Homo sapiens: one gene and its partner. The protein of the gene in region 1 purifies or fractionates together with the protein of each later gene. This does not show direct contact. Each region holds a gene or a part of one and is shown on either strand. Other genes may lie near its edges.

Region 1 (3,826 bases):
CTGTCACCTTGTTTCCTGTAACCTATTCAGAAGCTGACAGATGGTAATGACATTCAGTTGTTGCCGACAGGGATCTAACATCCTACTTTATGCCTTCTTGGTCTTGAAATACATCATTTTCATCAGTTGATGGGAAGGTACATGATAAACAGCTTTTCATGAGTTTGAAACAATACTTTTTTGAATACAACAGCTCTGTTAGTTATTAGGTAGTTTTATTGTACTAACAGTGGAAAAATAGAGTGGGAAACTCCAGCATTATACCTTAAATGGGGCTTATAGAAAGATTTTTGAATATTTCTCAGAGTACTTGCTAGGTACTTGGAAAGTACAGGGATAAGGACTGGCCATATAAATCTTCATTTATTTATGCTAATTTCAGTTCGTTTTAGGAACTAAATGAATGAACATGTCCTTTGCTGAACACCACGCAGTTGGAAATACCTTTTGGGGTGCAGTTTTGGATGTTGTAAATACCTTTGCATAGCTTGGGAAATAAGAAGGTCATCAAGAGTCTGCAGATCCATTGCCGCATTCTGTACTTGATACTTATATCTTGGTCACAACAGGAAGAGGCAGGCTGTTTTATGGTGATAATCGATGTGTTCGTATTTGAATATGCACCAGAAAGTAAGGGAATGGAAATATTTTGTATTTAAATAGGTTTATTTATTTTATTTTATTTTATTTTTTGCGATGGAGTTTCGCTCTTGTTGCCCAGGCTGGAGTGCAACGGCGTGATCTCAGCTCTCTGCACCCTCTGCCTCACGGGTTCAAGCAGTTCTCCTGCCTCAGCCTCCTGAGTAGCTAACCACACCTGGCTAATTTTTGTATTTTTAGTAGAGATGGGGCTTCACCGCATTGGCCAGGCTGGTAATTTTTGTATTTTTAGTAGAGATGGGGTTTCACTACATTGGCCAGGCTGGTCTTGAACTCCTGACCTCAGGTGATCCGCCCATTTTGGCCTCCCAAAGTGCTGGGATTACAGGTGTGAGCCACCGTGCCTGGCCTGTTTTTTGCCTTTCTAACTTGAAATAACTTTTGGCACCAGTTTTTAGAATTCCTAATGCATACTTTTTTTTAGTATGAGGTATAATGAGTATGATAAATACTCCTCTGAAAAACCAAAGTAATGATTAGCTCTTCTAAAACCTGTCAGTTTCTATATGATGGACATTTGTTTGATACATTTCAAATCTAGAGTTTTCCTCAAGGTTTTTGGGAAAAGGCCTTATAGATCATAATTTGTAAGGCGTAAGAACAATCTCAAGTTAATGAAAGGTTATTTCAGACAAACTTCCACTGTTAGAGTTCAGAAAGTTTTTTCCCATGGAAACCGTGTTGTAAGTAATAGTAGCTGTCATTTACATCACTAGCAACTAATTTGTGCTAGCTGTTTTAAGTCACACGTACATTCATTTATCAAAATTCATTTATCATGAATAAATGAATACATACATTCATTTATCAAAATTCATTATAAAAATCCTTTGAGGTAGGCATTCTTTTTACCATCCTTTTATGGATGAGGAAACTGAGGGATAGAGACATGAAGTAATTTATACCTACAGCTACATAGCTAGTAAATAGTGGTGCTGTGATTGAAACCTGGGCATTGCAGATCTGGAGCCTATGTGATAACCAGTGTACTGCACTGCTTTATTGTAAGATAGTGGAATGCTGTAATCCACCTATATGTGAAATGAGTTTCTGTGAGTTGGCCTGGAAACCTAAGCATCATTAATATCCTTATTTAAGTGTTCTTTGTCACCGTTGACCATTACCTAGTTGAAATACATTCCTTTTCACTTCCATAGCACTGTACTTGCCTGGTTTTCCTCCTACTTTTCTGGCCCAACGCTTTTTCCTGTTCTTCACTGGTGTTTACTCCTCTTCTGTCTAATCTCTGCATGTTACTGTTTCCTCAGGGCTTGGGATTGATAAATTTCTTGTTCATTCCTTGCTTTCTCCTGCGGACTCACATCCACGTCCATGCTTTTAAATACTATCTCAGTGGAGATGCCCATATTTGAGCAGACTCTTCTCAGGACCTCAGACTCTTCTGAAAACCTGATCACATAACCAACTACCTCTTTGACCTTTTACTTGAGCTTAATGATATGCTTTCCCCACCCATCACACCTCTGCTTCTCTAGTGAGGCCCATCTCAGTAGTCATACCTCTGTCCACTTAGTTGCCCAGGCCAGATGGTGGGAGTTGTGTGTGCTCAGTCACTAAGACCTACTGTTTTGAATCTAATGTCTTGAAACTGTCTGCTTCTTTTGTATCCACTGCTCCAGCTGGTCCAAGCCACCATTATTTTTCACTTGGACAACTGTGGTAGCTTCCTAACTTAGTCATCTTGGACCTTTTCTTTCCTCTCTTCAATTCATTCTTCTTATACCATCCAGAGTGATTTTTAAAAACACAGATCTACAAGTTTGCTCTTGGTCCTTTGCTTAAAGCCTTTCCATGGCTACTCCTACATATTAGGGTCACATTTTTAAACATCTGTAATATGGTCAGGCGTGATATCTCACGCCTGTAATCCCAGCACTTTGGGAGGCTGAGGTGGGAGTATTGCTTGAGCCCAAGAGTTTGAGACCAGCCTACGCAACGTGGTGAAACCCTATCTCTACAAAAAATAAATAGAAAAAATTAGCCGTGCATGGTGGCGTGCGCCTGTGGTCCCAGCTACTCTGGAGGCTGGGGTGGGAGGATGGCTTGAGCCTGGGAGGTGGAGGTTGCCGTGAGCTGTGATGGTGCCACTGCACTTCAGTGTGAGCGACAGAGTGAGAACCTGTCACACACACACACACACACACACACACACACACACACACACACACACATTGTAATGTGCTCTGTATGGCTCTGCGTTTACTGACCAATTTTTTTTAATTTATTTTCTTTTTTATTTTTTCTTGAGACAGGGTCTAACTCTGCTGCCTAGGGTGGAGTACAGTGGTATGAACACAGCTTACTGCAGCCTCGACCTCCTGGGCTCAGGTGATCCTCCCAAGTAGCTGGGACTACAGGCATGTGCCACCACACCTGGCTAATTTTTAAATTTTTTGTAGAGATGAGGTCTTGCTATGTTGACCAGGCTGGTCGGGAACTCTTGGCCTCAAGCAGTCTTCCTGCCTTGGCCTCTCAGGCGTGAGCCACCATGCCTCGCACTGGCCTGTATTAAATTCTTTGAATCATCCTAAATTCCTTCTTACCTTAAGGTTTTCATACATCGTCTTACCTTCACTTAGATAACTCTCACCCTATCCCCACCTCCCAGACTGACTTGTTAAGGTATCTCATGTGAGAAACCTGCAGTATTTTCAACCCTCACTCCTTGTTGCTTTGTGCAATGGTATATGTTTTCACAGAATATTTTATTTTACTTTCATATTCTTAGAAATATATACCTATGTATTGTTTATGTAATACGTATCTTCTTCAGAATGGAGGTTATTTGAAGAACCCCTATGTGTTTTGCTGTTATATTTGTAGTACTTAGTATTTACTTTAATCCATGGCATATAGTTGGTGCTTAATACATACTTATATCATGAAAGCCAGAACTCTGCTTCAGTGTGGGAATTGGAAGCCCCTTTCTTCCTGTTGCAGCCTCTAATGCCATTCCCCCTCTACCCTGTAGTTGGGACCAAGATGAAGGGTAAGTTTGTGATTATCTTTGGTTAGCAGGGTGGGGATATGGGCTACTACTTGTTTCTTCCTTTCCTTGGTATGTTCTCTGGAACAATGAGTACTAAAGTATGTCTACCAAAACACAGTTTTCTTTTATTCATTAAACAAATATTTGAGTACCTGC
Region 2 (3,826 bases), on another chromosome or scaffold:
TTGTAGTCAGGAAATCTTGCTTGTACCCTTTCTACTTTGTTTCTATAAAGCTATCACTACATATGCAACTTTATATGCATATTATATATACTTGTTTGTGTGTATTATATACATATACACAATACATTCAACTTTACTTTTTCATCTTTGTCTTTTACATCTTGTGTCCTCTGTGGTATGTAACAGTACCCTTGTACATTGTAGGAATATAGTAAAAGCTAGATTTTATTATTTCGAATGGCTGCAAGAGATTCTTTGGTTAAAACAATTTGACCAGGGAATAAGGCTTATATCTGGGTGAATATCTGGAATGAGAAGGAGAAGACTCTACTTAATGTAGTACGTTTACCTTGAGGGTCAGACCATGCTATTTGGGTTCTGCAATTCTCAAGCACAATGTAAATAATACCAGCACTTTATAAGTGTAAGCTTCTATGGGTTTGACAAGATTCTGAGATGTATTTTCCCTCTTCATGAGCATAAGCACACTCAGTAAAGCTAAATCATTTTACAATATCAAACAAACGAATCTAAACAATGCAACATTCAAGATTCTTTGAAAGCAATTTACAGCTTTATTGGCATCTCCCAAAGAATGTTAATAGGAATCTAATTTATAACATAACTTCAGATTTACTATCATGTTCTCCCTTTTACCACTTCTTTTTATCTTCCCATACCCCTACTGCAACTAATATGGTTCCTTTTGCTTTTCTTTTCAGACTCCCCCATATCTGTTCTTTCTTTCTACTTCCCATGAACTCTGGTGTCCTTCCCCACGCCCTGCTTGCCCAGCTGTGTTCCTCCCTGTCACCTTGTTGCTCTTCTTCCAAAGTACAATCCGGTCAGTCTGTCTTAGTGTTCTTCCTATTCTACAGTGATTTTTAATCTATTATTCTGGTCAATATAACAAAAATAAGCAGTAGGGTACAAGGTTTTCAAATAGAGAATTTTTCTTAGAAAAATCAGTAACAGTATTCTAAAGTACATTATAAATGCATGTCCCAATTACAATTTATTTTATAGGTGTGACTTCTAAATCTATAAGGGAGATAAGATTTTGTGTACTTGTAAAGACAATCTAATTCTTCATATTAATAATATAGCAGGTCACTTATTTATGGTAAGTCAATATAGCTTTGATTTTCATCCCTGAGTTGTAGGTTTGTCTTTCTAAGAAGGAATAGACTTATTCAATAAATGATTTTTTTTGCAGTCTAAAGAAGGTGCATTTATTGTCAGAGATTCAAGACATTTAGGATCCTACACAATTTCCGTATTTATGGGAGCTAGAAGGTAAGCACTTGTGATTTTGGTTACTATAGAAATAATCCCTGGCACAGTCTCCATCACATAGAGAATGTTAGTGAGAGCTTAGCTTAGGGAAAAGATTGTTGACCTGGAAGTTAGAAAAACCAACCAGTCCGTGATATATCCCTAGCATGCTCTGTGTGACATTGCATAAGTTTCTTAACCTCTCCCGTCTTCCTTTTCTCAACCATAAAGTAAAGAGGGGGAGATTAGTTGTAGTAGACGCTGTTGGGCGCTTTCCTCATATCCCTTGGTCTGTTCTGGGATTCACTTGCAGAAAAGTCTCTTGCACTCAGAAAGCTTCCTGTGTCTGTCTGCCTGAGGATGTTCTCTGGCTGTGGGAACTTGTGCGCCCCGTGGCTAAGCTGAAAGTGCCTGAGAGGTAACATCCCAGGAGCAATGCTAGGTTAAAGAGAATGGGAGTTGGTGGATAAATATCTCAGCTTCTTTGCACTTCAGTGGGACAATTGTGAGGTGTGTTCCCCAGTCTCTCCTAGGTTCCTACAAGTATTGAGCCCCAATTGCCCATAGTAGTAACCTACTAACTAATGCACCTGGCATTGGTTTTTCCTCCCTTCTTGTCTCCCATCTCCAATTGCTTACAGTGCATGTGTTCATTCATTTAACCAATACTTGATATTCAATATGTACTTACATGTATTCATTATGAGATCTACTTTTCTGAACACTGGTCTTGTCACTCAGACAACTTTGGCTGAAGTTATGTTTGAATCTAAGGCCCCAATAATGTAGTTGAGGAATTTTCTTGGCATGGGGGGGCACTTGTTGAATTTAGCCAATCTACTTCTCAGTGTAGTGTTGCTAGGATGAGTTTTAGAACTGGAGTCCTGTTGTTTAATGAGTTGGCTTAGATCCAAATTGATCTTTCACATTTCTAGTAATTCACATTTTCTTGATTGTAGAAGTACGGAGGCTGCCATAAAACATTATCAGATAAAAAAGAATGACTCAGGACAGTGGTATGTGGCTGAAAGACACGCCTTTCAATCAATCCCTGAGTTAATCTGGTATCACCAGCACAATGCAGCCGGTAAGAGGGGAACTTCCAGCTGGGTGAGTCAGGGAGCCATGCCCTTGATGGGCAATGCATCTTTGGTATCAGGCACTCAACAGGAGCAAATCTCCCTATAGAAATAGTTTAAAAGCTTGAAGTACAACTTATCTTTTGAGCAATTATCTTTCTTATTGATGCCTCTTCATTTTTCTGGTTGGTTGGGGGCAAGAGGTAGGTCAATTTCTTATATTTCTACCAGGTTAGAAAAATGATAGATGACAGAGAAGCAAATAGTCATCAATCATTATGCATTTGTTCTGGAAATTTACATAGGGCTAAATGTAATAAGATTTCAAATACCCTAAATAATGATGCTTCTTTCCCTTTGCCCCCATAAATCTGCTCTCTACTTTTGACGATTGTAATAGAAAATCACCCTTATATCTCTCACTCTCTGTTCTTTCTTGTTTGGAGAATATAAAAAGTCACAGAGAACACAGCCTTTCACAGTTACAATTTAGCCTAACTATACCAGAGGCATATTTAACCCATCTCCCCAGACATTGTTTGCAATAATTGCTCTTTGTGCAAACCTATCATCTGTGGAAAGATGTAGGATCCCAGAAAGTTCCACCACAATTAAAATCACCTCTCTGGCCTTCAGCCCTTGCCCAACCTGTGCTGAACCACTCTGAGCCCATGGGGAATCTTCTTATCTCAGCATTGCAGAATTCAGAATCCACGGTAACTTTTCATGTCATTTTGACTGCTTGTCATGCATGCACTTCTTTTTTAGATTTCTCTCATGAAAAGTGTTGACAAATATTCCTTTTGGAAAGAGCTCACTTTTCCATTACACTGGTTCTAAGTATCAGGAATATATCAAAGGACATTTTTATCCACTTGTGGGATGCATCCACATGGCTATTCACTGGAATTTTGGTTAAGGAGTGAGGGTAAAATATCTGGGTGGGGCAATAAAGGTCTTAGTTGTAGCTAGAGATAGAGTCAAGATGTCAGTTCTGAGTTTTCTCCTTTATATTCCTCTTTCTCCTTCCTCCAAAGAAAAAAGAAAGAGTGGTTTTGGTGATAAGGTTAAATGAGGTTAGATGAGGGCTTTAACCTGAACTAGGTGTTAGAGTCACGGTGAGCATCCATTCCTGTTCCCTGTTCAAACTTTTACCATTCTCAAGACTCCTTTACCAAAATTAACCACTGCCTTATTAGCAAATCCCCTGTCTGTGTACCTCACTAGGAAAAGTGAAGTCACCAGGCATGAGCGACCTCCGTCTCCTCTTCTGTCCCCATGCCCTCTCATCCTCATTCCCTCCAGTAGTAGTGAGGGCATGCCTGTGCTCTTGCCCTTACCTGCCATCCACTGTTCCTTTCTCTCCTGTATCTCTTCCATTCTTCTGACTGTCTCCCTTTAGCTTTTAACCCTATAAACATGCTTAAGACTTTCTTATCCTAAAAACAAAAACAACTCTCCTCCTGCTGCCC

Evidence for each region.
Region 2: the proteins of QSER1 (region 1) and TXK fractionate together in Homo sapiens (co-fractionation; one large-scale study listed by BioGRID). This does not show direct contact.

The regions. Positions count from the first base shown.
Region 1 is NC_000011.10:32,895,679-32,899,504, forward strand, and holds part of QSER1 (glutamine and serine-rich protein 1), read left to right. Parts: intron 1-3,826. UniProt on the Homo sapiens protein: Plays an essential role in the protection and maintenance of transcriptional and developmental programs.
Region 2 is NC_000004.12:48,092,613-48,096,438, reverse strand, and holds part of TXK (tyrosine-protein kinase TXK), read left to right. Parts: intron 1-1,214; exon of another isoform or gene 1,215-1,216; coding exon 1,217-1,296; intron 1,297-2,234; coding exon 2,235-2,362; intron 2,363-3,826. UniProt on the Homo sapiens protein: Non-receptor tyrosine kinase that plays a redundant role with ITK in regulation of the adaptive immune response. Regulates the development, function and differentiation of conventional T-cells and nonconventional NKT-cells.